Homo sapiens: one gene and its partners. The protein of the gene in region 5 interacts with the protein of the main gene of each other region in a pairwise test. Each region holds a gene or a part of one and is shown on either strand. Other genes may lie near its edges.

Evidence for each region.
Region 1: the proteins of SUOX (region 5) and BAG4 interact in binary tests that used the Homo sapiens proteins (3 or more experiments, as listed by UniProt).
Region 2: the proteins of SUOX (region 5) and MEIS3 interact in binary tests that used the Homo sapiens proteins (3 or more experiments, as listed by UniProt).
Region 3: the proteins of SUOX (region 5) and CTAG1A interact in binary tests that used the Homo sapiens proteins (3 or more experiments, as listed by UniProt).
Region 4: the proteins of SUOX (region 5) and SOHLH1 interact in binary tests that used the Homo sapiens proteins (3 or more experiments, as listed by UniProt).
Region 6: the proteins of SUOX (region 5) and ZNF710 interact in binary tests that used the Homo sapiens proteins (3 or more experiments, as listed by UniProt).
Region 7: the proteins of SUOX (region 5) and MORN3 interact in binary tests that used the Homo sapiens proteins (3 or more experiments, as listed by UniProt).

Annotation. Positions count from the first base shown.
Region 1 is NC_000008.11:38,186,374-38,190,882, reverse strand, and holds part of BAG4 (BAG family molecular chaperone regulator 4), read right to left. Parts: intron 1-4,509. UniProt on the Homo sapiens protein: Inhibits the chaperone activity of HSP70/HSC70 by promoting substrate release. Prevents constitutive TNFRSF1A signaling. Negative regulator of PRKN translocation to damaged mitochondria.
Region 2 is NC_000019.10:47,412,524-47,417,032, reverse strand, and holds part of MEIS3 (homeobox protein Meis3), read left to right. Parts: intron 1-69; coding exon 70-229; intron 230-330; coding exon 331-381; intron 382-1,931; coding exon 1,932-1,982; intron 1,983-2,166; coding exon 2,167-2,316; intron 2,317-4,509. UniProt on the Homo sapiens protein: Transcriptional regulator which directly modulates PDPK1 expression, thus promoting survival of pancreatic beta-cells. Also regulates expression of NDFIP1, BNIP3, and CCNG1.
Region 3 is NC_000023.11:154,583,499-154,587,839, forward strand, and holds CTAG1A (cancer/testis antigen 1), read left to right. Parts: upstream 1-1,634; 5' UTR 1,635-1,708; coding exon 1,709-1,977; intron 1,978-2,653; coding exon 2,654-2,788; intron 2,789-3,027; coding exon 3,028-3,166; 3' UTR 3,167-3,318; downstream 3,319-4,341.
Region 4 is NC_000009.12:135,692,498-135,697,081, reverse strand, and holds the end of SOHLH1 (spermatogenesis- and oogenesis-specific basic helix-loop-helix-containing protein 1), read left to right. Parts: intron 1-276; coding exon 277-470; intron 471-1,818; coding exon 1,819-2,032; intron 2,033-2,624; coding exon 2,625-2,695; coding exon of another isoform or gene 2,696-2,736; exon of another isoform or gene 2,737-3,046; coding exon of another isoform or gene 3,047-3,112; exon of another isoform or gene 3,113-3,267; coding exon 3,268-3,485; 3' UTR 3,486-3,675; downstream 3,676-4,584. UniProt on the Homo sapiens protein: Transcription regulator of both male and female germline differentiation. Suppresses genes involved in spermatogonial stem cells maintenance, and induces genes important for spermatogonial differentiation.
Region 5 is NC_000012.12:56,002,645-56,006,528, reverse strand, and holds the end of SUOX (sulfite oxidase, mitochondrial), read right to left. Parts: coding exon 3,809-3,884; intron 2,912-3,808; coding exon 1,502-2,911; 3' UTR 1,004-1,501; downstream 1-1,003. UniProt on the Homo sapiens protein: Catalyzes the oxidation of sulfite to sulfate, the terminal reaction in the oxidative degradation of sulfur-containing amino acids.
Region 6 is NC_000015.10:90,076,815-90,081,323, reverse strand, and holds part of ZNF710 (zinc finger protein 710), read right to left. Parts: exon of another isoform or gene 1,665-4,509; coding exon 1,495-1,664; 3' UTR 1-1,494. UniProt on the Homo sapiens protein: May be involved in transcriptional regulation.
Region 7 is NC_000012.12:121,648,242-121,650,448, forward strand, and holds the end of MORN3 (MORN repeat-containing protein 3), read right to left. Parts: 3' UTR 501-2,207; downstream 1-500. UniProt on the Homo sapiens protein: Assembles a suppression complex (suppresome) by tethering SIRT1 and MDM2 to regulate composite modifications of p53/TP53.

The DNA of each region.
Region 1 (4,509 bases), on a different chromosome or scaffold from region 5:
AGGAAGCTGAGGCACGAGAATAGCTTGAACCCAGGAGACAGAAGTTGCAGTGAGCAGAGATCATGCCACTGCACTCCAGCCTGGGCCACAGAGCAGAGACTCCGTCTCAAAAAAAAAAAAAAAGACAACCCACCAACTTGGGCTGGGCGCAGTGGCTCAATCTGTAATCCCAGCACTTTGGGTAGCTGAGGCAAGAGGATTGCTTGGGGCCAGAGACCAGGAGTTCAAGACCAGCCTGGAAAATAATGAGACTCAGTCTTTACCCAAAAAAAAAAAAAAAAATGTCAGGTGGGCGTGATGATGGGTGCCTATAGTCCCAGCTACTCAGGAGGCTGAGAGGTGAGAGGCAGAGGCAAAGTCCAGAAATTCAAGGTTATGGTGAGCTATGATCTATGATTGTGCTACTGCACTCCAGCCTGGGCAACAGAGTAAGACCCCATCTTTAAAAAGAAAAAACCTACTGACTTGATAACCACACACAGAATATAATTCAAATAATTCTTGAACAGTTTTCTGAATGGACATCTTTAGTGGTACCTTTCTAAAAGCAAAAGAAATTTAAAAATATCTTAAACTCTTCATATAATGTTATTAGTAGTGATATTACTATCTTAATTTTTAAACTATATTGTGTGTATTGTAGAATAGAATAAATACATACAGTAGTGTTATTGGGAACCGATATTGTCACGAGGACAAGGAAAGATAAAATATGGAATGGGGCAAAATGAGGAAGAACTGGGGGATAGTGAATGTGGTGGTGTCATTACAAACTCACATAAGTAAAAAACATAATTTGGCTGGGTGCAGCGGCTCACACCTGTAATCCCAGCACTTTGGGAGGCCAAGGCAGGTGGATCACGAGGTCAGGAGATAGAGACCATCCTAGCTAACACGGTGAAACCCCATCTCTACTAAAAATACAAAAAATTAGCCAGGTGTGGTGGCGGGCGCCTGTAGTCCCAGCTACCTGGGAGGCGGAGCTTGCAGCAAGCCTAGATCACGCCACTGCACTCCAGCCTGGGCAACAGAGGGAGACTCCGTCTCAAAACAACAACAACAACAACAAAACGTAATTTAACCTTTTATGCAAAACAAACAAATATGGATAAAAGTGACAGTGTGCCAGTCCACACAAAGGATTTAGGAGTCGCTGCAAATTCTAGCAACCCTCTTGTGTTCCCATGCCCTCCACAAGACCTACATTATCTTATATGGGAGCTGTGTTTTCAACTGAAGTCCCAGGATGAGAAGACACACAGGTAGACCTGAACTGAACCTGGGGCCTAGAGAAGAACCACTAGAGTGGACTCACAGAACCTGAGCAAGAAATAAATGTTTATCATTATAAGCTACTAAAATTCTGGAATTGTTGTTTCAGTATAGGAAAAGTCAATTAATGCAATAACTAACAATCAAGTTGGTAACATAACCACAGAGAAAAAAGAATTACTTCAAATGACTTTTAGCTCACGTTATTTTGACTGTACGTCCTCAGTGGAATTTATTCTCTAAGGACAAGCTGAACTGCAAAGAAACCGAAACTGCATCCATTAGTTGTTACTCATAAAACTGGTATTCTTATTTTCAAGTTTTACTCACTACCATCCAATTCACCTATTTAAAGTATATAATTCAGGCCTGGCATGGTGGCTTACGTCTGTAATCCCAACACTTTGGGAGGCCGAGGTGGGTGGGTCACTTGAGGTCAGGAGTTCAAGACCGGCCGGGCCCACATGGTGAAACCTCGTCTCTAATAAAATACAAAAATGAGCTGGGTGTGGTGGCGGGCAGCTACTCAGGAGGCTGAGGCACGAGAATTGCTTGAACCCAGGAAGCAGAGGTGTAGTGAACTGAGATTGCACCACTGCACTCCAGCCTGGGCAACAGGGTGAGACTCCATCTCAAAAAAAAAAAAAAAATTAGCCGGGCATGGTGGCACACACCCGTAGTCCTAGCTACTTGGGAGGTTGAGGCAGGAAAATTGCTTGAACCTGGGAGGCGGAGGTTGCAGTGAGCCAAGATCGTGCCACTGCACTCCAGCCTGGGTGACAGAGCAAGGCTCCATCTCAAAGATAAACAAATAAATAAATAAAAAGTAAATAAAAAGCTGATATTAAAGTAGCCACTCCAGCTTTCTCATAGTTGCCTTTTGCATATTTTTATATATATATACATATATATGTATACATGTATATATGTATACATGTATATGTATACATGTATATATGTATACATGTATATATGTATATATATGTGTACATGTATATATATGTATACATGCATATATATATGTGTATACACGTATATATATGTATTTATATGTGCATATATGTAATTTTTAATTAATAAAAGTAGTACATATTTTTGGGATACATGTGATATTTTGATACATGTATATAAAGTGTAATGATCAAAACAGGGTAACTGGCATATCTGACACCTCAAACATTTATCTTTTCTTTATTGCATTATATTTCTTTTTCCATCCATTTACTTTCAAACTATTTGTATCTTTAAACCTTAAGTGTGCCACCTTTAGACACCATATAATTGGATCTTGTTTTTTTTTTAATCCAGTCTGTCTTCTGACTAGATTGCTTAATCCATGCACATTTAATATTATTGATATAGCTGGATTTACATGTTTTATTTTTACTTTTTGTTTTTTATATGTCTCATGTGTTTTTGTCCTTTATTCCACCTTTACTGCTTTCTTTTGCATTAAGTGAATATTTTCAAATGTAGCATTATAACTTAATGATTATACTTTTTTTTTCTTTAGCAGTTACTCTTGGGCTAACAATACACTTCTTCTTCTTCCTTTTTTTTTTTTTTTTTTTTTTGAGACGGAGTCTCACTCTATCACCCAGGCTGGAGTGCAGTGGCACGATCTCGGCTCACTGCAAGCTCCGCCTCCCGGGTTCATGCCATTCTCCTGCCTCAGCCTCCCAAGTAGCTGGGACTACAGGCGCCCGCCACCACGCCCGGCTAATTTTTTTTTTTTTTTTTTTTTGTATTTTTAGTACAGACAAGGTTTCACCATGTTAGCCAGAATGGTCTCGATCTCCTGACCTTGTGATCTGCCCACCTTGGCCTCCCAAATTGCTGGGATTACAGGCGTGAGCCACAGCACCCAGCTGGGCTAACAATATGCTTCTCATCAGAATCAGCTTCTGATTTATACCAACTTAATTCCAGTGAGATACAGGAATGCTATTCCTATATAAGTCTGTTCCTTTTCCCCTTTTTTGTGATTTTATTGTAATCCACATTATGTCTACAAATGTTACAAACTCAACATTATATTGTTATACTTATTACTTTATATAATGTCTTTTAAAGAATCTGAGAAGAAAAGAGCATATTTGCATCTTTTGTTATATTAACCTTGTTATTAATCATTTCTGATATGCTGGTGTGTTCAATGGTGTCTGACACTTCTCCAACACATCAGTCTTTTTTCTCTCCTTCATATTGCATAATCTGTATTGATCTATCTTCAAATTCATGAATTCTTTCTTCTGTCAGTTCTAGCCTATTGAACTCCTCTAGTTAATTTTTCATTTTAGTTACTGTACTTTTCAACTCCAGAATTTCTATTTGTTTCTTTTTTAATATATAATTGCTATCTCTTTATTGATATTCCCTATTTGACATGACATTATCACACACCTTTCTTTGCTTCTTTAATCATAGTTTTTTAGTTATTTGAACATATATAATGGCTACTTTGAAGTCTTTGTCTATTAAATGTGACATCTGGTCACTTTCACAATCAGTTTCTGTTACCTGCTTTTTTTCCAGTGTATGGGTCATACTTTCCTGTGTCTTTGCATAGCTCATAATTCTTTGTTGGAAACTAGACATTTTAGCAACTCTGAGTACTACTGGTCCCACCTTTTCCACCTTAGGCTTGTTATTGTCATTTGCTCATTTGTTTAGTAACCAGCTGGATTATTTTTGCAAAGTCTGTTTGCCCTCAAACTTCAAGTATGAAGTATGTGATATTGCTCATTAGAAGGCACAGCCTTGGGTATGCCCACAGTCATCCTGGATGACAAAGATTTTTGTAAGACTTTCTTTGAGTGTATCTTTCCTTGACCACATCTAGTTGTTAAAGCTTCACTAATTTCCAGCTGATTGCTCTACTGGTTTTAATAACACCCTGAGGCATAAATTGCTCCACAGACTGAGTAGATCAAATTTGGGTCCCTCTAAAGGGACAGTTAGTTCCCAAGGTCAGTGTTTGAGAGTTGTTCTGATACCAAAGGGCTCCTCCTAGCTTCTTCTTTTCCTGGTTCTCTCCAGCAAACTAGCTGGCCTACTAGTTTATCCTGCATCTCCAGTGAATCTAACCAGTCTCTTCCCTATTGCTTTGCACAACAACCTCCGCAGTTTTTTTGACTTTCTCCACACTCCTGAGCTTCTCCATACTTTGTTCCTTTAGGAAAAGATTAGGAGCTACCTGTTTTACAGCCTACTTCTGCTTCCAGATAAAACATCTGA
Region 2 (4,509 bases), on a different chromosome or scaffold from region 5:
GCATCTTGGCAGCCCCTCCATCCACCTCCCAGCCTCTCCCTCAACCTCTCTCCTTTCCTGCCTCCCCAGACACCCGCTCTTCCCCCTCTTGGCCCTGGTCTTTGAGAAATGTGAACTGGCTACATGCTCTCCCCGTGACGGGGCCGGAGCTGGGCTGGGGACACCCCCTGGAGGTGACGTCTGCTCCTCTGATTCCTTCAACGAGGACATCGCTGCCTTTGCCAAGCAGGTGGGCACCTCCCACCCACCACACACCGAGTCAGAGAGCCAGCGAGGAGGGGTGGGTGGAAGGCGGGACATCCCCCTGCCGGCCTCTCTCTTCCCTCCCAGGTTCGCTCTGAGAGGCCCCTCTTCTCCTCCAACCCAGAACTGGACAATCTGGTGAGACCCGAGCCCTCCCCCACACCCCCTCCTCCAATGGGTCTCCTTCCCTGACGCCCCATCCCTGGGGTTGGTGGGGGGGGTGCAGAGAGAAGGCCACCTGGTCCATGTCCCCAAACCGTCATGATTGTTGCCCACGTGCCGTGTGGTACAGCCTAGAGTCTGAGAACGGGACCCATGGCCCGAGTTCAAATCCCAGCTCTGCCACTCACCAGCTCTGTGACCCAGGGCAAGTCACTCTGCATCTCCGTGCCTTGGTGTCCCGTCTGTGAAGTGTGGCTGGTAGTAATGTCTGTCTTGGAGGGCTGCTGTGGGGGTTTAATGAGTGAATGCGATTCAAGTGCGTGGAACAGCACCTGGCACAGAATAGGGCTCAAAAAGTGTCTGATGTTCCATCCGTCAGAAGATCAGCACCTATGCCAAAGTGAGCGCAGGGACTGCTGCCCAAGGAGAGGAGGCTGGGTGCGGCAGCTCACGCCTGTAATGCCAGCACTTTGGGAGGCCAAGGCCAGGAGATAGCTTGAGGCCAGGGATCGAGACCAGCCTGGGCAACGTAGCGAGACCCCACCTCTACAAAAACATTTAATTAGCGGGGTGTGGTGGCATGCACCTGTGGTCTCAGCTACTTTGGAGGCTGAGGCGGGAGGATCGCTTGAGCCCCAAGAGGTCGAGGCTGTAGTGACCCTTGATCAGCTCCACTGCATACCAGCCCAGGCAACAGGGCAAGACCCTGTCTCTCATAGAGAGCTAGAGAAAGAGAAAGAAAGAAAGAAAAAGAGGGCCGGGTGCGGTGGCTCATGCTTGTAATCCCAGCACTTTGGGAGGCTGAGGCAAGCAGATCACCTGAGGTCAGGAGTTCGAGACCAGCCTGACCAAATGATGAAACCCTGTCTCTACTAAAAATACAAAAATTAGCTGGGCACAGTGGTGCACGCCTGTAGTCCCAGCTACTCAGGAGGCTGAGGCAGGAGAATCGCTTGAACCTGGGAGGCAGAGGTTGCAGTGAGCCAAGATCACACCACTGCATTCCAGCCTGGGCAACAGAGCAAGACTCCATATCAAAAAAAAAAAAAAAAAAGAGAGAGAGAGAGAAGAAAGGAGGGAGGAATACCCAGCTTCTCCCATCCTTTGCTCCCCAAGCTCTTGCCAGGGCTTCCTATTGGCCAAACCCTTTGGCAAGTGTTCTGGGAAATGTAGCTTGCAGGTGGGTGGGGCCTGGAGCTGGGGGCCAACAGGCAGAGGATGGGAATGCCAGTCAGCATGGCTCACCTTAGCTCTCCCCGCTTGTGATGGGTCCTTTTTCGTCTCTTGCTTCTCTCAATCTAACATCTGCTCTTTCCTTAATTCTGGGCTGCATCTCTGTTCTCTCTTTCCCCCTTGCACCTGGTGTCTTTGTCTCTCTTTGCTGCATCTCCCTGTCCCTGTCATTTTGTCTCACTCTTTCTGTTTCTCTGTGTCTCCTCTTCCTCCTTCTCTTCCTCTTCCTTCTTCCTCCCTGCTCCCTCCCCCAATTCCCTCTGTCTCCCCCCACCTCCCGCCCACGTTTTCAGATGATCCAGGCCATCCAGGTGCTGCGGTTCCACCTGCTGGAGCTGGAGAAGGTGAGCGCGTCTCACCTCCCCACACCCTCACTTGCCCCTGTCATCCCACCCCCTCTCGTCGCCTCTGCCCCCCACCTTCCAGCTCTCTCCCCACCGGAGTTGAAGCAGAATGCCGCCCCCGTCCCTGAGCACCCCCGCCCTGCCCCCGTGGGTGGCCCCCCCCAGTACCCCGGTGCCCCCCCAGGTCCACGACCTGTGCGACAACTTCTGTCACCGCTACATCACCTGCCTCAAGGGAAAGATGCCCATCGACCTGGTCATCGAGGATCGGGACGGCGGCTGCAGGGAGGACTTCGAGGACTACCCAGCCTCCTGCCCCAGCCTCCCAGACCAGGTGGGCCCGGGACGGGCACCAGGCATCGTCCTGCAGCCACAGCTGTGCCTGGACACCGCATGAGGGCGCATGTGCACTACACAGCCTCAGACGAAGCCACAGTCAGCCTGATCACAGGGCACGCATATGCACACAGCCACACACCCACTACACAACAGCTACGCAGACTCGGATGCGGCTGGGCAACAGTGCACAGACACACGCACACCAGCGGCTGCAGATGCCACCCACAGATTCAGCTACACCCACACAGGTCCACATACAGCCACACCAACTCAGCAACAGCCATTTCTGCTCACAGCCAGACAGTAGCGTCCACCGGGTACTCACACACGCCCCCCAGCCCAGCCATACGACAGCAGCATAGAACACACAGCCGGGTTCCGCACGCCGTTCTCAATTGAGTATGTGTCCACTGCATACACACACCCGCTCCAGCCACACAGATGGACATAGAGCCAAACAGCCCCAGGTACTGCCCGGCAAACTCAGATATAACCACACTTGGGCCCGGACTGACCACGGTGCCCTCTTGCACACACGTGACCCTGGCCACATCACAGTCGGGCTGCAGCCGAGATCACACGCACACACCACTCACAGCCACATGGCCCCAGACTCATCTACGCAGACTTGGAAATAGACTCACAGGCTCAGATGCGGCCACAAAGAATCAAACCCAGGCCGGGTGCGGTGGCTCTCACCTGTAATCCCAGCACTTTGGGAGGCTGAGGTGGGTGGATCATGAGGTCAGGAGATCAAGACCATTCTGGCTAACACGGTGAAACCCCGTCTCTACTAAAAATACAAAAAAAAAAAAAATTAGCTGGGTGTGGTGGCGGGTGCCTGTAGTCCCAGCTACTCAGGAGGCTGAGGCAGGAGAATGGCATGAACCCGGGAGGTGGAGCTTGCAGTCAGCCAGGATCGCACCACTGCACTCCAGCCTGGGCGACAGAGCAAGACTCCATCTCAAAAAAAAAAAAAAAGAATCAAACCCAGCAAAGCAACTCAGTAAGGTGGCACCATCTCAGACGCAGCCTCACTACAGTTTTATCCACTTAGGACACCAGACGGAAAACACACACAGCACAGCCGTGTGGATCCCGACTTGCCACAGCTCCATACAGAGTACAGGGGCAAAGCCTTGAGAAGTCGCATGAGAGCCACACTCAGGCAATCCTACTGTGAACACACCTGGCAATGACATCTTCACAGCACACGCACACCCACTCCACACCACCTCAGATACACTCCTATGACGACCACGCCACAGCCAGACCCACCCAGACACAGTCCCGGAGACATTTTTTTTTTTTTTTGAGATGGAGTCTTGTTTTGTCACCCAGACCGGAATGGAGTGCAGTGGCACGATCTCGGCTCACTGCAAGCTCTGCCTCCTGGGTTCAAGCTATTCCCCTGCCTCAGCCTCCCGGGTAGCTGGGACTACAGGTGCCCACGACCACACCGGGCTAATTTTTGTTCAGTAGAGACGGGGTTTCACCATGTTGGCCAGGCTGGCCTCGAACTCCTGACTTCAAGTGATCCTCCCGCCTCGGCCTCCCAAAGTGCTGGGATTACAGGCATGAGCCACTGCAGCCGGCCAAGTCCTGGAGCCTTATACCCACTCGCACAGGAATCGCAACAACAGTGTCACAAACAGGACAACCAAACCTTCAAACTGCAGTCACAGAAAGGAAAATGTAGACTGGTGATGGCTGGGCGCAGTGGCTCATGCCTGTAATCCCAGTACTTTGGGAGGCCGAGGTGAGCAGATCATCTGAGGTCAGGAGTTCAAGACCAGCCTGGCCAACATGGCAAAAACCCGGCTCTACTAAAAATACAAAACTTAGGCCAGGTGCAGTGGCTCACGACTGTAATCCCAGCACTTTGGGAGGCTGAGGTGGGCAGATCACGAGGTCAGGAGTTTGAGACCAGCCAGGCCAACATGGTGAAACCCCGTCTCTACTAAACATAAAAAAAACAAAAAATTAGACAGGCGTGGTGGCACGCACCTCTGATCCCAGCTACTCAGGAGGCTGAGGCAGGAGAATTGCTTGAACCCGGGAGGCGAAGGTTGCAGTGAGCCAAGATCGCGCTATTGCACTTCAGCCTGGGTGACAGGGCAAGACTCTGTCTCAAAAAAACAAACAAACAACAACAAATTAGCTGGGTGTTATGTCGTGCGCCTGTAGT
Region 3 (4,341 bases), on a different chromosome or scaffold from region 5:
GGACGACAGGAAGGATGGCAATCACTAACCGGGTTATGTCTGATTTTCAGCTATTCCAGGTGTTAACAAGTTGTGTTCTCTGGTTTTTAAAATTCATCATTTAATGAAATATATGTAATGAAATACAGCAGTGAAAATAATAAACTGGAGGTACACGCAAGAGCTTGGGTGAATTTTTCTTTTCTGTAAGTAAAAACATTTTTAACTGATGTATGATAACTCTGCATATTTATGGGATACATGTGATATTCTGATACATGCACACGCACACACGATGTAATGATCAAGTCGGGGTATTTAGGATCTCCACCACCTCAAGCATTTATCATTTCTTTTTTTGGGGAACATTTCCTATCTTTTAGCTATTTTGAAATATACAATAAATAATTACCTATAGTCCCTCTACGGTGCTATCAAACACTAGAACTTAATCCTTCTATGCAACTATATGTTTGTCCCCATTAACCTCCCCACCCTCCCCACCTTTCCCAGCGTCTGGTAACCATCATTCTGCTCTACCTCCAAAAGATCAACGTTTTTAGTTTCCACATGAGTGCCAATATGCTTTTCCCAGGTGCAGAGGCTGCTGATTCCTGGATTTGGAAGGTGGGGGAGAGTGGTTTGGATTTCAGTACCTCCCCCTTCCTCAGGGCTAGGCCCTGTCTGGTCACCTCCTGTTGCTACAGGTGTGCCTGGCACAGACATTCAGCTCCCGGGGCCGTGCCGCCCTCACCCCTGCATGCCTCTAGAGGTACCTGTCCCGTGGATTTGACCCCCTTCCAGACACACAAATAGATCACCACTGAGCAGACACAGGGTCACCTCCCAGCTCCCTACCAGGCAAGAGCGACCAGGGCAGGGACTGATACTGCCGAACCCAGGAGCCAGGCCCGACCCAGCCTCAGGTCCAGCAGGTCCCGCCTGTCCACCTGGGCCAGGCCTAGAGCCCGGGAGCCCCTGGCTGGTGGGAGGCCACCCGCAACCCACCCCACACGCAGCTCCAGCTCCCCCACCAGGCGGGGCGACTAGGACAGGGACAGAACCCGTTGAACCCAGGAGTGAGATCCGGCCCCGGGTCCCGCTGGGCCCTCCCGTCCACCTTGGCTGGACCTGGCGCCTGGGAGACCTTGGCTGGCGCGAGGCCACGCCCACCAGACATGCAGTTCCAGCTACCCCACCAGCTGGGCGACCAGGACAGGGACGGAGGCTGCTGAGCCCAGTTAGAGGCCTGCCCCCCGGGGTCTGTCCTGGGCGCTCCCCCAAGGACGGACAGGGCAGGCAGGGTCCGGGACGATGGCCGCACAGTCCCGGCCCCGTGTTCCCAGGCCCGTCTTGCTCCTCGATGTGAGGGAGACCCGGGGGATGGGACAGGCTGGGCCCCGCAGTGCCTGACTCCCTGCAGGGCTCCCGGGACAGGGGTCCGGCGGACAGCCGGCTGCTCAGGGGTGAGGGGTCCAAGCTGGCATTGCGGCCACCTTCCGGCCCGGGCTCTCTTGGGGAGGGGCGGGGTTGGTGAGAACCGGTCACGTGCTCCGGGGCTCACTCGGGGTCTCCCAGGGCCGGAAGTAGGGCCCCTGTGCGCAGGCGCCCTGAGGATCCCGGGCTGCCCATCTCACGCCAGGGGGCGGAACTTCCTGCAGCCTCTCTGCCTCCGCATCCTCGTGGGCCCTGACCTTCTCTCTGAGAGCCGGGCAGAGGCTCCGGAGCCATGCAGGCCGAAGGCCGGGGCACAGGGGGTTCGACGGGCGATGCTGATGGCCCAGGAGGCCCTGGCATTCCTGATGGCCCAGGGGGCAATGCTGGCGGCCCAGGAGAGGCGGGTGCCACGGGCGGCAGAGGTCCCCGGGGCGCAGGGGCAGCAAGGGCCTCGGGGCCGGGAGGAGGCGCCCCGCGGGGTCCGCATGGCGGCGCGGCTTCAGGGCTGAATGGATGCTGCAGATGCGGGGCCAGGGGGCCGGAGAGCCGCCTGCTTGAGTTGTATTCTGTTCTGTTCTGTTCTGTTCTGTTCTGACAGTTCTGGTGGCGAGGTGGGGGCCGGGAGATGGGGAGGGCAGGGCCAGGTGGGGGAGGAGGCGGGGGAGATGCGAGTAAGTGGTTGGGTGGGGGTGGGGGTGGGGGTTGGGAGGTGGGGATATGAGAGGCCAGCTGCGAGGAGGGGAGGAGGTAAGGGCTGGGAGGTAGAGGGGGTGGGGGTGGGGGAGAGGGGCTGGGTGATTGGGTGAGGGGCACCGGGTCATGCGGGGAGGGGAGCAGGGGCCAGGAGATAGGGGGACCCAGGTGTAGGAGGGGATCAGGAGGTGGGGGGAAGGGGGCAAGATGGGAGCGGGTGGCGGGAGGTGGTTGGGATGGAGGGTCGAGTGATGAGGAGGGGGCCGGGTGATGCCACAGGGGGCAGGGTGGGGAGGGGTCTTGTAAGGGCATGGAGGAGTCAGCTTGGGGTGCAGCAAAGGAAAGTGGGGAACCAAGACAGCTGGGTGGGGTGTGCTACTGGGCCAGTGCCTGGGGAGACAGCCTGGGGGGGATGGGCTGGGCAATCCGGGGTAGGGGGGAGGGGTGGGGGAGTGGGGGAGGGGGAAGCTGGCCTGGGGTAAGCAGCAGGCCGGAGCCACAGGCCAAGTCCTAGGAGAGGATGCCTTAACTGGGCCCCCACCAGCTACCTCGCCATGCCTTTCGCGACACCCATGGAAGCAGAGCTGGCCCGCAGGAGCCTGGCCCAGGATGCCCCACCGCTTCCCGTGCCAGGGGTGCTTCTGAAGGAGTTCACTGTGTCCGGCAACATACTGACTATGTCAGTTCAGGACCAGGACAGGGATGGGGCCTGGGTGGGTGGCGGTCACAGCGTGGCAGGGTGGGGGCTGGGATCCGCCTACACCCCACGGTCAGGCTGCTAGAAACCTGGGAACACCCCAGCACAGGGTCTCAGAACAGAGACCTGGTACACCAGGCCCGCCGCCACCCGAGGGAGCCCAGGGAGATGGGTGCAGAGGTGTCGCCTTTAACGTGATGTTCTCTGCCCCTCACATTTAGCCGACTGACTGCTGCAGACCACCGCCAACTGCAGCTCTCCATCAGCTCCTGTCTCCAGCAGCTTTCCCTGTTGATGTGGATCACGCAGTGCTTTCTGCCCGTGTTTTTGGCTCAGCCTCCCTCAGGGCAGAGGCGCTAAGCCCAGCCTGGCGCCCCTTCCTAGGTCATGCCTCCTCCCCTAGGGAATGGTCCCAGCACGAGTGGCCAGTTCATTGTGGGGGCCTGATTGTTTGTCGCTGGAGGAGGACGGCTTACATGTTTGTTTCTGTAGAAAATAAAACTGAGCTACGATTCCGTGTCTGAGTCTCTTTTCGGCGAGCGAAGGCACCTTCGGACTTGCATGCCCTTGTCCTCGGGTTGCAGGGGAGGCTCTGGGATTCACAGATTGAAGTAGCACAAGGTAACGGGAGGCAATTTGGGAAATGGGGGAAAATGAAAAGCCACTGGGTCCCGCCATTCAGCATTAACTACTGTGGACATTTTAGAATATTTTCCTCAATATACTTGCATTTATATGTTAAATATATGACAGTAGCATATATAATGTTTTTCCAGGTCAGCATTAAATTTTTTCCCAAATTGTTTTCATTGAACATATGAGCTTTTTTACTTGGGAAAAATTCTTTGAAAACGTACTTGAATAGATGCATAGAACCAGCATTATCATATCACTGTTAAGCATGTGATATGGGTTGGGCATGGTGGCCCACACCTGTATTTCCAGCACTGTGGGAGGCTTGAAGCGGGAGGATGGCTTGAGACCTGCAGTTGGAGGCCACCCTGGGCAATGTAGCGAGATTCTGTCTGTAGAAAAATCATTAAAAGGCCGGGTGCGGTGGCTCATGCCTGTAATCCCAGCACTTTGGGAGGCCGAGGCGGGCGGATCACCTGAGGTCAGGAGTTGGAGACCAGCCTGGCCAACATAGTGAAACTCCATCTCTACTAAAAATACACACACAAAAAAACAACAACAAAAAAACATTAGCCAGGCGTGGTGGTGTGTGCCTGTGATCCCAGCTACTTGGGAGGCTGAGGCAGGAGAATCACGTGAACCTGGAAGGTGGAGGTTGCAGTGAGCCGAGATGGTGCCACTGCACCCCAGCCTGGGCAACAGAACAAGACTCTGTCTCAAAAAAAAAAAAAAAAAAGAAAGAAAAGAAAAGAAAAAATTAGCAGGGTGTGGTGGTGTGTGCCTGTGATCCCAGCTACTTGGGAGGTTGAGGTAGGAGAATCACTTGAACCCAGGAGGTGGAGGGTGCAGGGAGCCGAGATCATGCCACTGCACTCCAGCCAGGTTGACAGAAAAAGACTCTG
Region 4 (4,584 bases), on a different chromosome or scaffold from region 5:
GTACCCATTTTACCCCAAAGCAGGCTGGGGCATGGGACTGGTGGCTAATTAGCTGTGGAAGAATCTAGAACCGGAGGAGTTGGGCAGAGGGAAACTGGGTAGACAGCTGTGGAGCTTGGCTGGCCCAGGGCCCCTGGGCAGAGGCTGGCTTGATGCTGGGTGGTGCCTGGGGTGTCCTGGGGATGGGTCCAGCCCTCTGCTCTTGGGGTGGGTGGGGGCAGCCTTCCAGGGGGCTGGGGAATAGACCCAGGATCCTTGTCATGTTGCTCCTTCTAGAACCCCAGATGTGAAGGCGTTTCTGGAAAGTCCTTGGTCCCTGGATCCAGCGTCGGCCAGCCCAGAGCCCGTGCCGCACATCCTTGCGTCCTCCAGGCAGTGGGACCCCGCGAGCTGCACGTCCCTGGGCACGGACAAGTGTGAGGCACTGTTGGGGCTGTGCCAGGTGCGGGGTGGGCTGCCCCCTTTCTCAGGTGAGTCCTGGGTGTGCATGTGGGGTGCCTTTGGCCTGGGGAGCGGCGCCAGGCTGTGCTTTAGCCCTAAGAACAATGGGGGCTGTTTGCAAACGGGGTTCGAAGTTTTCCCAGGCCCTTGTGTTGGTGAGAAACCCACGTGTTGAGGGATGAGCTTGATTCAAGGCCCCCGGGCTGTGCCTGCTTTTGTGAAAAGGAGGACGTGTGCTCTCGGGAGGGAGGAAGTGTGGCTCGAGGAAGGGAGAGTCCTGGGCAAAGGCCACCATGGGAGCTGTTCCTTCTATCCTGTCTCCTCCTGGGACTTCCATGTGCTCCAGGGAAGGGAGGGCCTGATCTTCTCCTCCCTGGGTCCCTGGGTCTGCTGGGAAGCATGGGGACGTAGAGGGACTTGGCCCCATCCTGGTCACTCCCTGGGTCTGCAGGAAGTATGGGGACGTAGAGGGACTTGCCCCATCCTGGTCACTCCCTGGGTCTGCTGGGAAGCATGGGGACGTAGAGGGACTTGGTTCTGTCCTGGGTCTGTGGGAAGTGGGGAGGTAGAGGGACTCGGCCCCATCCTGGTTGCTCCGTCCAGCTTTGTGGCCCTGCTTCTCTCACCCGCCTGTGGCTGGTGTGTTTTGGATGTGGCCGGAGATCTGTTTTCCCCGGGGCGCCCCATCTGCCCTTCCGCCTATGCTGCCTGGCCATGGCAGGAACTGTAATTGGGGTGAGCCAGGGGCCCGAGGCCTCCCAGCTGTTCCCTCTGCCACCCGGGGCCTTTGTCCCTAATGCCACCCACAGCTGAGCTCTGGTCCCTCTGTGGGTGGCCCTGCAGGGCGCCTCTGATGACCGAACTCCCCTCGGCCCCTGCTGTGGTAGCGTCTGGAAGTCGCCAGGTGCCATGAGAGGCAGGGCTGTGCCTTTTGGCTCCCAGCTGTGGCTGGGAGCAGTCATGCAGTTGGCAGGGCTGGTGTCAGAGCTGGGGTCATCAGGGCACTCCGGAAACCCAGGAGTCAGCCAGGCACGTGGGGAGCGAGCAGGTCTGAGGGCAGAGCTCGAGGTCCGGGAGGCGGTGCTGAGAGGGTCCCCAGATCCAAGCCCCTTGCGGCTGGCCAAGCCAGCACCCCCTCTAGGAAGCCCTTGGCCCCCAGGTGTTGGGCACCCCACCTCTGGGTGTTCATCTTTTCCTTGTTTACCTGTGTGCCACCCGCTTCTGAGCTTCCTCCCACGTGTCCCTGCTGCAGGGTGCAGGCAGCAGAGCAGGTGCTCGGTCAGTGTGAGTGGACCGAGCCCGTGAGTCACGAGGTCCTCGGGGGCAGCCTGTGGGGCTGGGCAGGGAAGGCTGACCCGCATCTGACTTCTCTCCCAGAACCTTCCAGCCTGGTGCCGTGGCCCCCAGGCCGGAGTCTTCCTAAGGCTGTGAGGCCACCCCTGTCCTGGCCTCCGTTCTCGCAGCAGCAGACCTTGCCCGTGATGAGCGGGGAGGCCCTTGGCTGGCTGGGCCAGGCTGGGCCCCTGGCCATGGGGGCTGCACCTCTGGGGGAGCCAGCCAAGGAGGACCCCATGCTGGCGCAGGAGGCCGGGTGAGTGCCCAGGTGGTGTGCACGCCTGTGTGTGCGTGAGCGAGCATGTGTGTGTGAGCCTGTCCCACCTCCTCCCAGTCCTGCTTGGGCCCACTTTCTCGGCATCTGGAAGCTTCCGTCTCTGCTTCTGTGCCCGTGGGAGGGAGGCCAAGGCCACAGCCCAGGACAGGACCAGCCAGCCTTGCCGTGTGGCTTTCTAATGTGTGTTTCTGGAAACACTTTTGTCTTCCTAATTGTCATTTGTTTTGGCTGATAGTAAAATGAGTTTGTGTTTCGTGAGCACATACCAGCTGGGGTGTGGGAGGGGGAGGGGAGGGGGAGGGAGGGGACGAGAAGAGCGAGACTGTGGCTGGAGAGAAACCGGCAGAGATGCTCTGCAGGACGGATCGGGACCCGCGAGAGCCGCTGGCCCGTGTCCTCAGCGGCTGTGGCCTCTGCATTTCTCCCCGCTGGGCAGGGTGGAGCCTGTCAGGAGTGGTGCCTAGATCTTTGCATTCGAAGCTGCCTTTGCAGGACTTGGGCCCAAATGTTTCCTTGAGCTCCAAGGTCTGGGTCCGCTTGTGGCCACTGAGGAAGAGCTTGTCGCTTCCAGGTCTGCGTTGGGGTCTGATGTGGACGATGGGACGTCCTTCCTGCTGACTGCTGGTCCCAGCTCGTGGCCGGGTGAGTGGGGCCCTGGGTTCAGGGCTGGTCCCCCCGCGTAAGCACCTGATATGAGCTGGGGAATTGGGACTCAGGCCTAGCGTGTGTCAGGGGGCCCCAGGGTCTGTGTCTGAGCCCCCGTTTTCTCCACCGTTGGTGCTTAGCTGTTGGGCCGTGTCTGGTATTGAGCGTTATAGGTGATATGTGAGTGTGTGAGTGAACGTGATGTGGACGAGCCTGCATGAGAGCTGGCGGTGCTTGGAGCCCTGTATTCTTCCCCTTGACCCTGTGTCAGCGAGGCCCCTGGTCCAGCCCGTGCTGGCCGGCAAAGGTGTATGGCCCTGTGACATGGCGTGTGTCCATTCCATTTAGGATTTAGTGTTTGGGAGCCCGTTCCTGGTTCTGGTCCAACAGGTGTCCTGGGTCTGGGGCCACCAGGTATGAGCTCACCCACCTCATCACAGCCTCTGTGCAGCGGGGACAGGGCAGGGCAGACGGACTGAGGTGGGAGCTCTGTTCCTCCGACCCCACCTGTCTGCCTCAAGCTCCCAGAGCACCTGCCTGCCCTGCCGATGTGTCCTGTTTGCTTCCAGGGTCTCTGGAGGGTCGAGGAGGCAGTGGCCCTGCATGGGCCCCAGCTGAGAGCAGTCCACTGGATGTTGGAGAGCCAGGCTTCCTAGGGGACCCTGAGCTTGGCTCCCAGGAGCTCCAGGACAGCCCTCTGGAGCCGTGGGGCCTGGATGTGGACTGTGCAGGCCTGGCCCTGAAGGACGAGGTGGAGAGCATCTTCCCTGACTTCTTTGCCTGCTAGCAGCCAGGCTGTGGAGAGGAGGCGGGCGGGGCCGGTGGATCTGGAGCCGTGTGTGTCCCTGTCGCGTGCTTGGGCATTTTATTTTGGGTTTGGGTTGCAGCTGCACCCTAATTTGAGCGAGGCTTACAGGCTGTGAGAAGAGGATAGTGAATATTAAAGAGGGAAAGCAGTTTTCCTGGAGGAAGCAAAACCTGTGTGGCTTCTGTGTAATTAGCCTGATTCATCAGGCGGATCGCGCCACCTCCGTTCAGCGTTCAGGCAGCTGCCGGGGATTTTGTTCTCCAAAGTTCTCAGCACTGCGAAATCCCGGAATAACCCAGTCCTGGTGCCCTGGGGTAGGGGTGCTGTGGGACCTGCTCCCTGGAGGCGATGTGGCCTCACGGTCTTGGTGCCTGGAGGCTGCTCTGTGAGCTGCTTTTCCTGCTCGTTGCCACTCAGAGCTGCAGGGAGGAGAGTCCTTTAGGAAAAGCCTGCTGTCCTCTCCCAGCCCAGGGGGCTCCAAGGGAAGGGCTGGCTTCCACCTCCACTGCTGGTCATCTCTGCACTCACTGTGCATGGGGAATAGGGGACCCTGGGCAGAGGTCACCTGGCCTCAGTGTCTGGTCCTATTCCCAGCCCTACACCCTGAGATCTGGAGGGGAGCTGGGTTACTTCGGGGTCGGGGTGGGCAGGTTACTTAGAGGAAGGGCCGAGCTCTTTGGATGGTGCTTAGGTGCCCGCCTGTTCTTCAGCCACAGCACAGGTGGTGCTGGTCTCCGACCCCGGATGCTCAGGGTCTCACCCTGCTATCCCCATCTGGATAGCACGCCCACCAGGGCAGTGTTCCAGGGGCCAGCGCAGTCTCTGTCGCCCAGGTAGAGGAAACAGGTCTGAGCGTGGGCTCAGAGCCCCACCAGGCTGCAGCCCTGTGCCTGCATGCAGCCGCCCCCGCAGCCAGCCAGAATGTTCCATTCATTCCTCTGAGTCATTCAGGCAAAGGCTTAGGAGGGCCTGCCGTGGGCAGGAGGTTAGGAGGCTCCAGGGAGCAAGCGCCGTGCAGACACCAGGCTGTGGGTGGCGGGCAGACCCCAGGGGGCTTTGGTGAGGGGCCCAAGGCCAT
Region 5 (3,884 bases):
CATGGTGAAACCCATCTCTACTAAAATACAAAAGAAATTAGCCGGGCGTGGCGGTGTGCGCCTGTCGTCCCAGCTACCTGGGAGGCTGAGACAGAATTGCTTGAACTCCGGAGACGGAGGTTGCAGTGAGCGGAGATCGTGCCACCGCACTCCTGCACTCCAGTCTGGGTGACAGAGCAAGACTCTGTCTCTACAAAAAAAAAAAAAAAAAAAGAGGCAAATGGTTGTATTCCACTCAAAGAAGGCAATCAGGTATGCATTTATCTCAGTGAGCAGAGGGATGACTTTGAATGGGAGGCAGGTTTACCCTAATCAGTTCCCAGCTTGACTTTTCCCTTTAGCTTAGTGATTCTGGGGCCTCAAGATTTATTTTGCTTTCACGACCTCCTAAGACAATATTGATTTTAAACTCCTAGCACCCTTTGCCTTTCCTGCCAAGTGCATTGGAACTGTTGGGGAAAGGAGTTGGAGGGTACATGTTTTTGTCACCTCTCCTCTCTTCATGGTATCCTGAGGTCAATCACCTAGGTGTCCCTGCAGATACTGCCAAACCTCAGAGAAGGAAGCCCCCCTTTTTTTGAGACAGAATCTCGCTTTGTCGCACAGGCTGGGGTGTAGTGGGTGTGATCTCGGCTCACTGCAACCTCTGCCTCCTTGGTTCAAGCGATTCTCCTGCCTCAGCCTCCCAAGTAGCTGGGATTACAGGCACCCACCACCACACCCAGCTAATTTTTGTATTTTTGGTAGAGACTGGGTTTTGCCATGTTGGCCAGGCTGGTCTCGAACTCCTGACCTCAAGTGATCCACCTGCCTTGGCCTCCCAAGTGCTGGGATTACAGGCGTGAGCCACTGTGCTCAGCCGGAAGCCCTACTTCTTAACCTACAAGCCTACTTCCTCTCTGTCTTCCTCCCCAGTTTTGTTTGTTTTGGTCTAATCTCATTATACATCCCAGTACAAATGCATCCTTCCTCCTGCAATAGGCTCACTCCCCAGGCCCAAGAGTTATGATCTTAAACAGACTATTTATTAGAAAAGTAGAACTATAAAGGGAGACGGTTGTGCCCCTTGCTCTCCTCGCAACTCTCTGGCAACCTGGAGAGGTAGTATAAGATAGTATATACACTTTTCTTACACATGCCACACACATTTCTCTGAACAATCCAAAAAGAAAAGCAAAACAAGGCCTTGATGGCAGTAGGCATTAGAAATGGAGGTGGGGTAGGAAGAGAAAATAGTGCTTGTCTCCAGAATTACTTTTTTCACTTCTAGCCCCTTGCTGTAACAGCTCACACTTCCTGGCACAGGTTCAAAGGCCAAGAGGGGTATGTAACATAGTGTCCAAAGAGGGAAGGTCCTTGGGTGAAATGTGCTATATGTGTACTTGGGTATGGCTTAGGAAGGCCAGAGTTGTGATCCAAGAAGTTGAAAGGTGGGAAAGATTTTTCTGAAGCAGTGAGGCTAATGGGTGGGGAAAGGGGTGGAGGTGGCTCCTTTCCATGCTCATGGGGAGACATAGACATGGACACGATGCCAGGCATTGCTGAGAACACCTCGCAGGTTCCAGATTGGGGCCACGGTGTCTGGCTGCACATTGTAACCATCATCCACAGCCTTACAAACAATGTTCAGTTCCTTTTGTCCAGCTGGCACAGGGGCTTTCAACTGCCACAGACGCCATGCCCAGGCCTTCCTGGGGCGCTGTTCCTCTCCATCCAGCTTAGCCACCTGCCAGGTTAGGCCCCCATCCAGAGACACATCCACCCGGATCACAGCCCTGCCACCACCACTCCATGCATAGCCCTTGATGGTCACCTCCCCTGATTCTACAGTCTCTCCATCCCGGGGCTCTGTGATGGCCGACTGGACAGGAAGTTCCTGAATGGATGGAGCAGAGTCAAAATCTACAGTCTCCCAGTCCACAGATGGAGAGAAGCCTTTGTAATCCCGCCGTTGCCAGTGGCTGTAACTTTCCTCTGGCTGCACACTCACTCTGCCCAGCCATTTGACATGGCGGGCACCCACCACTCCAGGAACCACCACACGCACAGGGAAGCCGTGGTCACGTGGCAGAGGCTGCCCATTCATCTCATATGCCAGCAGGACCTCAGCTTCAGGGTCCATGGCCCGAGCCAGAGGGATGGATGCTCCATAGGCAGTCCCAGTAGGGTCTGAGTCCAGTCCCTCAAAGCAGACGTGGGCCTCAGTTTCACAGAGTTGGTGGCCAGCCTGGGCTAACACATCACAGAGCCGTGCCCCAGCCCAGCGTGCAGTGCTGATGGCTCCTGTTCTCCACTCCAGACCTTTTACTTCTTTGACCTGAGTCATCTCAGAGCGTCGGTTGCCGGCACACTGCAGAGTGACTGTGATCTCGTACCTGGGAAAGTTGTGCAAGTCATCCAGGGAAAGAGACAGTGACTGACCCCCAGGTGCTCCTACTACGTGTAAGCGATAGGTGTCTGGATCCAGGTTAGGTACAGGCAGATGGTTCCGGGTGAAGAAGATAGGGTTGGGTGTGATGTAGTTTTCTGTCAGCAGCTCAGGGGGAGGCTCTGCATTAAAGGGCCGCTGGCTGTTGACCTTCAGGGCTGGGTGACGTACAGGATCATCAGCATAAGGGTCAGAGGTCTCCACGGTGGGGGCTACCTTGTCTTCAGGATTCAGCTCCCCAATCTTGTACTGAGCCAGTAACTCACGCACATGGGACTGGTTGTGAACAGCATAGAGGGCCCAGAAGGGCTCTAGGGGACCCCCAGCTGCTAGCATCAGCTTTGAAGGCCCCCCTGGATGTAGGTCCACAAATTCTGTGACATCAAAGACCTCAGAGCCCAGAGTCACCCAGATCCCAGTCTCAGGGCTGGTGTGGGAACTCACTTCCTCCTTAGTGTATATGTGTGTTGACTCCTGAGCAGCCTATTGGCAGGGAAGGAGTAAGATAAAAGGGAAGAGACTATTAAGAAGAAATCACTTGGTCGGGCGTGGTGACTCACAACTGTAATCCCAGCACTTTGGGAGGCCGAGGTGGGCGGATCACATAAGGTCGGGAGTTCAAGACCAGCTTGACCAACATGGAGAAGCCCTGTCTCTACTAAAAATACAAAATTAGCTGGGCATGGTGGTGCATGCCTGTAATCCCAGCTACTTGGGAGGCTGAGGCAGGAGAATCACTTGAACCCGGGAGGTGGAGGTTGTGGTGAGCTGAGATCATGCCATTGCACTCCAGCCTGGGCAACAAGAGTGAAACTCCATCTCAAAAAAAAAAAAAAGAAAAAATGAAGAAGAATAAGAAGAAATCACTTGAGCTCACCCTGACCCAACCCACGGTGTTGGCCACTGGGAAGCGAAGGTAGCAGATTAGCAGATTTCATCTCCACTGTGCATGAAGACTGCGTCACTGTGAACTCTGTGGTAACTACAAGAACATGGGTCACAGCCTGGGTTGCCTGTGGAGTTTACTAGGACTGATTCCTTTATTCTGACAATTTTTTTTTTTTTTTTGAGATGGAGTCTCACTCTGTCACCCAGGCTGGAGAGCAGTGGCCTGATCTTGATCTTGGCTCACTGCAGACTTAGCCTCCTGGGTTTAAGTGATTCTTGTGTCTCAGCCTCTCAAGTAGCTGAGATTACAGGTATGTACCACCACACCTGGCTAATTTTTACTAGAGATGGGGTTTTGCCATGTTGCCCAGGCTGGTCTCAAACTCCTAACCTCAAGTGACCCACCCACCTTGGCCTCCTATAGTGCTGGGATAACAGGCGTGAGCCACTGCACCCAGTCTGTTCTGACAATGAAGCACTTTCCCTACTTACCCTACACCGATGGTCCTGATAGGCCAACACTGCACCGAGACCTAATAGGGTCCCCATGACTCTCCATCCCTGGGTG
Region 6 (4,509 bases), on a different chromosome or scaffold from region 5:
TCCGGGTGCCCTAGAGTTCCTGAATGTGCTATTTCACTGCCCTGGGCCTGTCATCTCTGGTTCCAGGGGCAGGAGCTGGCGTGGGAACAGAGGGGAAGAGAGCAGGCGAGCGAGGGAGCTAGCTGTTGGCTGAGCAGAGTCAGCAGCCCTGACAGCCGAGGATGGGACATGGGACAGAGCAAGTCAGCGACTGCAGGAGCCAGGCAGGGGTGGAGGGCTTCCCAGCTCTGCCTTCTCCTGCCTCCCACCCCAGCCTGCTGAGGCTGCTGCCAGCGGCTGCACCTCCAGGGCCAGGGTGACAGTCCCCATGGAGCCCCAGTCCTGCCCGGCCAGGCTGCTCGGGGTGGGTGGGTAGGAAGCACGCACAGCACATTAGGAAGCTTACGCTTGGAAAAAGAAAATGCATCTCCATCAGAAAAGGTCATAGGTGACACACAGTTGGAAAGAAAAAAATAATAAGTTACCTTCAGAAGACCCCCTTTGCTCAAAAAAACCCTTGATTTCCCTCTGTGGGCTTTACTTTCCTTTTTAAAATACGTTGCTCTTTCCGGGAAGCTGCTGACTCGTGGCTATCCCCGTCGCAAGGTGGACACTGAGGAATGAGAAATGACTGCGGTCCCCCTCCCCGACAGGTGGTCCTGGGCCTCCCCCAAGGACAGCCCTTCTTGGTCCCCTGTGATGCCCTCACTCCGCCCTGCCCTGCCCCATGCTTCTGGTTTTGTTAGTGTGTGCCTGACGCGGGGCCTGTCCTGGCTTTGTTCCTAGTGGGGCCCCCTGGTGAGGCACTCCAGCTAGGGTCGAAGTGGACGACATGTGTTGCAATCCACTGTAGGGACACTCACTTCCAGAAAGGGATGTAGGACAGGGGTCTTCTGGGGGCTGGGTGCCCCCCAGCTGTCCTGCAGGCCAGGGCCAGGGCCACGTGCACACCTGGCTTGAGGAGCGCATGGGAGACCCCGGGAGGTAGAAGGCAGAGTGCCCTGCCTGGCGGTCCGTCGACAGGGCGGGGAAGGGGGCCTGGACAAGGTAGAGGTGGGCAGTACTGGCCAGAGGGGAGCTCAGACATCCTTAGAGGCAGGAGTTGGCCGTGAAAAAGACATGGCTCAAGTGGTCTCTTCTTCCAGTGTCAGGACCCCTGAAGAGCTCTGCTGGGCCTGGAGAGACCCCGAGGGCCGGTGCCCTTGTGACCTGTCCCCAGTGGCCCCACTTCTCCCACTCCCCACGGAAGCAGGCCAGGGAGACCCAGATCTGGGCCTCGCGTGTTCTCCTTCCCTTGCTGGGATGCCTGGGCCTGTGCTGGCTCACAGCCGGGGCCAGTAGTACAGTCTCCATTTGGTCTAAAGGTCCCTAGTGGTGCAAATGACTCGGGGAGGGAGGGCTCAGAACAGTGGGGCAGTAGCTTGTTTCTCGGCTGCAGGAGGTGCAGCCTGCAGCCCATGGGTCTCACCCCCATGCCCTCGCCCCCGGCCCCCGTTAGGGGTGGCCCAGCTTGCGCTATAGCACATTGTAGTAGGCCATCTCTTTCATGGCCTGTTCAGTGAGGACACTGGCCTCGGCGCTGCTGTCCACGCTCGCATAGCTGTAGGCGTTCTCCTCGAAGTCCTCCATCTCCTGCTGGCCGTCGAGCTCTGAAGGGTCAGTGCCTGTCAGCTCCATCATGGGGTCTGTAAGAGAGGGGCACAGTCAGACCTGGCTGCCATCTCTCGGGAGGAGCCAGTCACCCCCACGCAGGAAGCTGATGGCCTTTCTAAAGAGAGGGCTTCCCAGTCACGGCCTCCAGGAGTCTCAGCTGCCTCTCAGCCTTCCCACCCTCGGACGCCTCAGGGTCCTGTGGCTTCTAGCTGGGTGACCAGACCTAGGCCCCAAAGCTGAGTGTGGGGGAGTGGGTGCTATCAGTGAGGGCCTTTGTGGTGGAGAACTGCAGGCCTGGCCTTGAAGCCTTCTTTGGGTCATTCTTCCATTGACCCGTCAAAGTCACTAAGCCCTACTTATCCCTTCTCTGCAATGTTTCTCTGGCCACGGGAAGCTGCCTGCGTGACATCACCTTTGCAGCACTCATTAGCACCTGCTGCATGCCAGCCACTTCGCAGGCCTCGCCTCATCCAGCAATCACAACAGCCCCATTTAGCAGCTCAGAAGGCTGAGGTTTAGAGAGGTGAATCAACTTGCCAAAGGTCACCCAGCACATGCTGTTGTTCTGAGCCACTGTGCTGCTCTGCCTCACACTGCGGGAGGGTGAGGCCTCCTGCCGGCAGCTGTGCTTTTCTGTTGGTTCTAGCCATTGGTATCCTTGGGCCTGGCTCTCCAGGGACAAACACTCAGGGTAGGTTCATAAAGATATGTCAGGCAAAAACTCCTAAGAGGCCCCTTATAATTTTATAAAATTGAAATCTCATTATAAAGCTCTTACAGGGGAAGCCCAGGGTAGGATCTGGGGGAACTGGGAGGCTGGCAGGGGCTGTGGCTGGCCCCCAAAGTGCATTCTGGCCCTGTCCGCTGAGATGTGCGTGTTTTGGGGGAAACAGACCCCAGGCTGGGGGCAGCCCTGACAGGTCTAAGGCAGACTTTCTCAACCTTGGCACTTAGGGCCATAATTCTTTGTTGTGAGGCTGTCCTGTGCATTGTAGGATGTTTGACAGCATCCCTGGCCTCTACCCATGAGATGCCAGTAGCATCACCCCAGTTGTGACAACCATAAATGTCTCCAAACATGGCCAACTGTCACCTGGAAGACAAACTCATGCTCAGTTGAGAACCACTGGTCTAAGAGTAATCCCATCCCTTCCCAATTAGTGGTTCAGGAATAGGCACGTGACCCAATCCTGTTGAATGGGTCATGAGGAAAGGCCTGCTAGTAAGTTCTTAGCACCTTCTCATTGGTGTCAGAGAGCTAAGGGGAGCAGGCTGTCACTCTTCCACTGGATGTGAACAAGGAAGCACACACCCTGACGGCCACTGGCAGCCATCTTGTGACCATGAGGATATTCGCAGCTAATGCTGTGGACAGAGGAAGCCTCACCCTGATGTCACTGTTGGCAAGCTGAATCAGCCAGCTCTGAAGAGGGCCTAGACTTTGAACCATTTCTTTTCTCTTCTTTTTTTTTTTTTTTTTGAGACCGAGTTTCGCTCTTGTTGCCCAGGCTGGAGTGCAATGGTGCAATCTTGGCTCATCACAACCTCCACCTCCTGGGGTCAAGCGATTCTCCTGCCTCAGCCTCCCAAGTAGCTGAGATTACAGGCATGCGCCACCATACCCGGCTAATTTTTTTTGTATTTTTAGTAGAGACGGGGTTTCTCCATGTTGGTCAGGCTGGTCTTGAACTCCCAATCTCAGGTGATCCGCCTGCCTCGGCCTCTCAAAGTGCTGGGATTACAGGCGTGAGCCACTGCGCCTGGCCCCATTTCTTTTCTTTTTTTGACAAGGTCTTGCTCTATTGCCAAGGCTGGGGTGCAGTGGTGCAATCATGGCTCACTGCAGCCTCAAACTCAAAGTGATCCTCCCAACTCAACCTCCCGAGTAGCTGGGACGATAGGTGTGCGCTACCACACCTGGTCTTGAGCCATTTCTTAATGGATTTCCTTATTGTTTAGGCCAGTCTGAATGGGTATCTGTTACTTGTGCCTGTAGCATCTAACCCACTGTGAGTCTTCCGGACTTTATAAAACAAGGTCACTTGACCCATATCTTATAGATTTGGGCTGTTTCTTCCCTCAGTCCTAGTGCCACACCCTCATGTTACACAGCTGGTTTCAAAAACAAGCTAAATAAAGCACCTTGGGGGCCAGGCGCAGTGGCTCATGCCTGTAATCCCAGCACTTTGGGAGGCCAAGGCAGGCAGATCATGAGGTCAGGAGATCAAGACCATCCTGGCTAACACCGTGAAACCCCGTCTCTACTAAAAATACAAAAAAATTAGCCGGGCGTGGTGGCAGGCGCCTGTAGTCCCAGCTACTTGGGAGGCTGAGGCAGGAGAATGGCGTGAACCCAGGAGGTGGAGCTTGCAGTGAGCCGAGATCGCGCCACTGCACTCCAGCCTGGGTGAAAGAGCAAGACTCCGTCTCAAAAAAAAAAAAAAAAAAAAAAGCACCTTGAGAAAATTTCTACTTGTGGATCTCTGTACACCGTCCCCATTTTGTTTATTAAGTCTATGGTCCCGTCCTGTGGGCCCCAGAGAATAGTCTGTAGCATTTTTTATAAGGACATTGATCCACCTCCCCAAATGACAGCCCCATAGTTACTAGATCGTTCTGTCTAGAATGTATGCTGCCTTCCTTCTGCATACGCATCAAGCCTGGGCTTCCCAGACCAAGGCTGTATGAGGGAGGTGGGGACCTGGAGCCCAGTCATTCCAGGGCCAATCGCTTCCTTCTGTCATCTGGTACGGCCAGGAATAGAGGAATTCTAAGCATCCCTGGTGACTGAGCTCATATAGAAAGAGGTTGTGCCTTAACCACCCCGAGGAACAAGGTGTACAGGGACAGTCTTTTTAAAAAATCTTGTTTGGGTGG
Region 7 (2,207 bases), about 66 Mb from region 5:
GGGTTCAAGGGATTCTCCTGCCTCGGCCTCCCGAGTAGCTGGGACTACAGGCATGAGCCACCACGCCCGGCTAATTTTTGTATTTTTAGCAGAGATGGGCTTTCACCACACTGGCCAGGCTGGTTTCCAACTCCTGACCTCAGGTGATCCACCTGCCTCAGCCTCCCAAAGTGCTGGGATTACAGGCGTGAGCTACCGCACCCGGCCGTCCTGGACATCTTTTACGTATTCCCCTAGGACAGCCACCTCCCTACTTCTGTAGGGATGCAAGATCCAGCTGGAATTATTTCTGGGCTAGGATCCTGTTGTCTTGGGTTCTTGTTCCTAAACTGGCCGGGACTCGACTCATCAGCCAGGCTTGTCAAATGCAGGTTTCGAAGCCCTTGGAGGATTCTGATTTAAGTAGGTCTGGGTGTGTCTTTGGAATCTATTTCTAACAAGCACCCCAGGTGCTCTCACACCCAGGCAACTTAGACAAACACTCCTAGTTAGGAGCACAGTCTCTTTAACTTCATTTTTATTTACATTTTGAATACATAATACATTCACATGGTTCCAAACACAACACTGAAAAGTTGTTCTTCAGCTCCTGTTCCCAAGTCCCCAATTCTCCCCAGAGACAACCATCTTTGCCAGTTTATTGTGTTTAAATCTAGCGACATTTTGTACATAAACAAGCACACCCTCTTCCAACATTTTTTTTTTTTTTGAGATGGAGTCTCGCTCTGTTGCCCAGGCTGGAGAGCAGCGGCACGATCTCGGCTCGGCGTGATCTTGGCTCACCACTACCTCCGCCTCCTGGGTTCAAGTGATTCTCCTGCCTCAGCCTCCTGAGTAGCTGGGATTATAGATGCACTCCACCACACCCAGCTAATTTTTGTATTTTTAGTAGAGACAGGGTTTCACCATGTTGGTCAGGCTGGTCTCGAACTCCTGACCTCTTGATCCGCCTGCCTCGGCCTCTCAAAGTGCTAGGATTACAGGCATGAGCCACCATGCCCTGCCCCCACTTTTTCTTTAAAAATGGTAACCCTTTACACTCTTCTGCACATTAAGAACAGCTAGACCTAAGTTTAAGCACAGTACTAGCTTGATGACTTGTGATCCTCCCTGAACCTGTTTCCTCCTCTAAAATGGCAGTAATAGCAAGACACCTCACTGTTGTCGGGGAGTGCCAGGAGAGAATGCTTGCTGCGAAGCTGTCAGCACACGGCCTGGAATAGAGTGAGTGCTCCATATCTGGAAGTTATGATTAATTCTGCATCCTAGGGTGGCCAGGCGGGGCTTCCCAGTGCCAGAGGTACAGACTGAGAACCACACCCTTGGTGAGGCCACCCTACTTATGACTTAGGGGGCAGAGAGAACCTCAGTAAGGTCAGTGGTGTTTATTGAGGCTTTACTATGTGCTATGTGCCTCTTGCTGAGGTCTTAGCTAGAATCGTGGTATTTCAGGGTTTCTCAACATTTTTTTTTTTTTTTTTTTTGGAGATGGTGTCTCGCTCTGTCGCCCAGGCTGGAGTGCAATGGCGCAATCTCGGCTCACTGCAACCTCTGCCACCCAGGTTCAAGCAATTCTCCTGCCTCAGCCTCCCAAGTAGTTGGGATTACAGGTGCTGAATTCTTTTTTTTTTTTTTTTTTGTAGCATGGTGATATTGCACTATGCTTAACCGCATCCCTGGTCTCTACTCACTCAATGCCAGTAGCCTTCTTCCTGCCTGTTGTGACATCAAAAATGTCATACATTGCCAAATGTCCCCAAGAAAGAGTGGGGCTGAGGGAGGACAAAATCCTACCCACAGTTTAAAACCACCGCCTTATCTCATCCTCACAGTAACTAACCACAGTAACCCCAGGTGGTAAGTACTGTTAATGCCCCATATTGCAAGTGAGGAGACCAACAGAACAGAGTTTGGGTGACATTCCTGAGAACACACAGCTCCGAGATTCACGCCCAGGCACTGTGACTCCAGAGCTCACCTGCCCATTATGCAAGAACATCTGATCTTGGCTGGGAGCAGTGGCTCACACCTGTAATCCCAGCACTTTGGGAGTCCAAGGCGGGCAGATCACGAGGTCAGGAGATCGAGACCGTCCTGGCCAACATGGTGAAACCCTGTCTCTACTAAAAATACAAAAAATTAGCCTTGGTGGCAGGTGCCTGTAATCCCAGCTACTTGGGAGGCTGAGGCAGGATAATCGCTTGAAC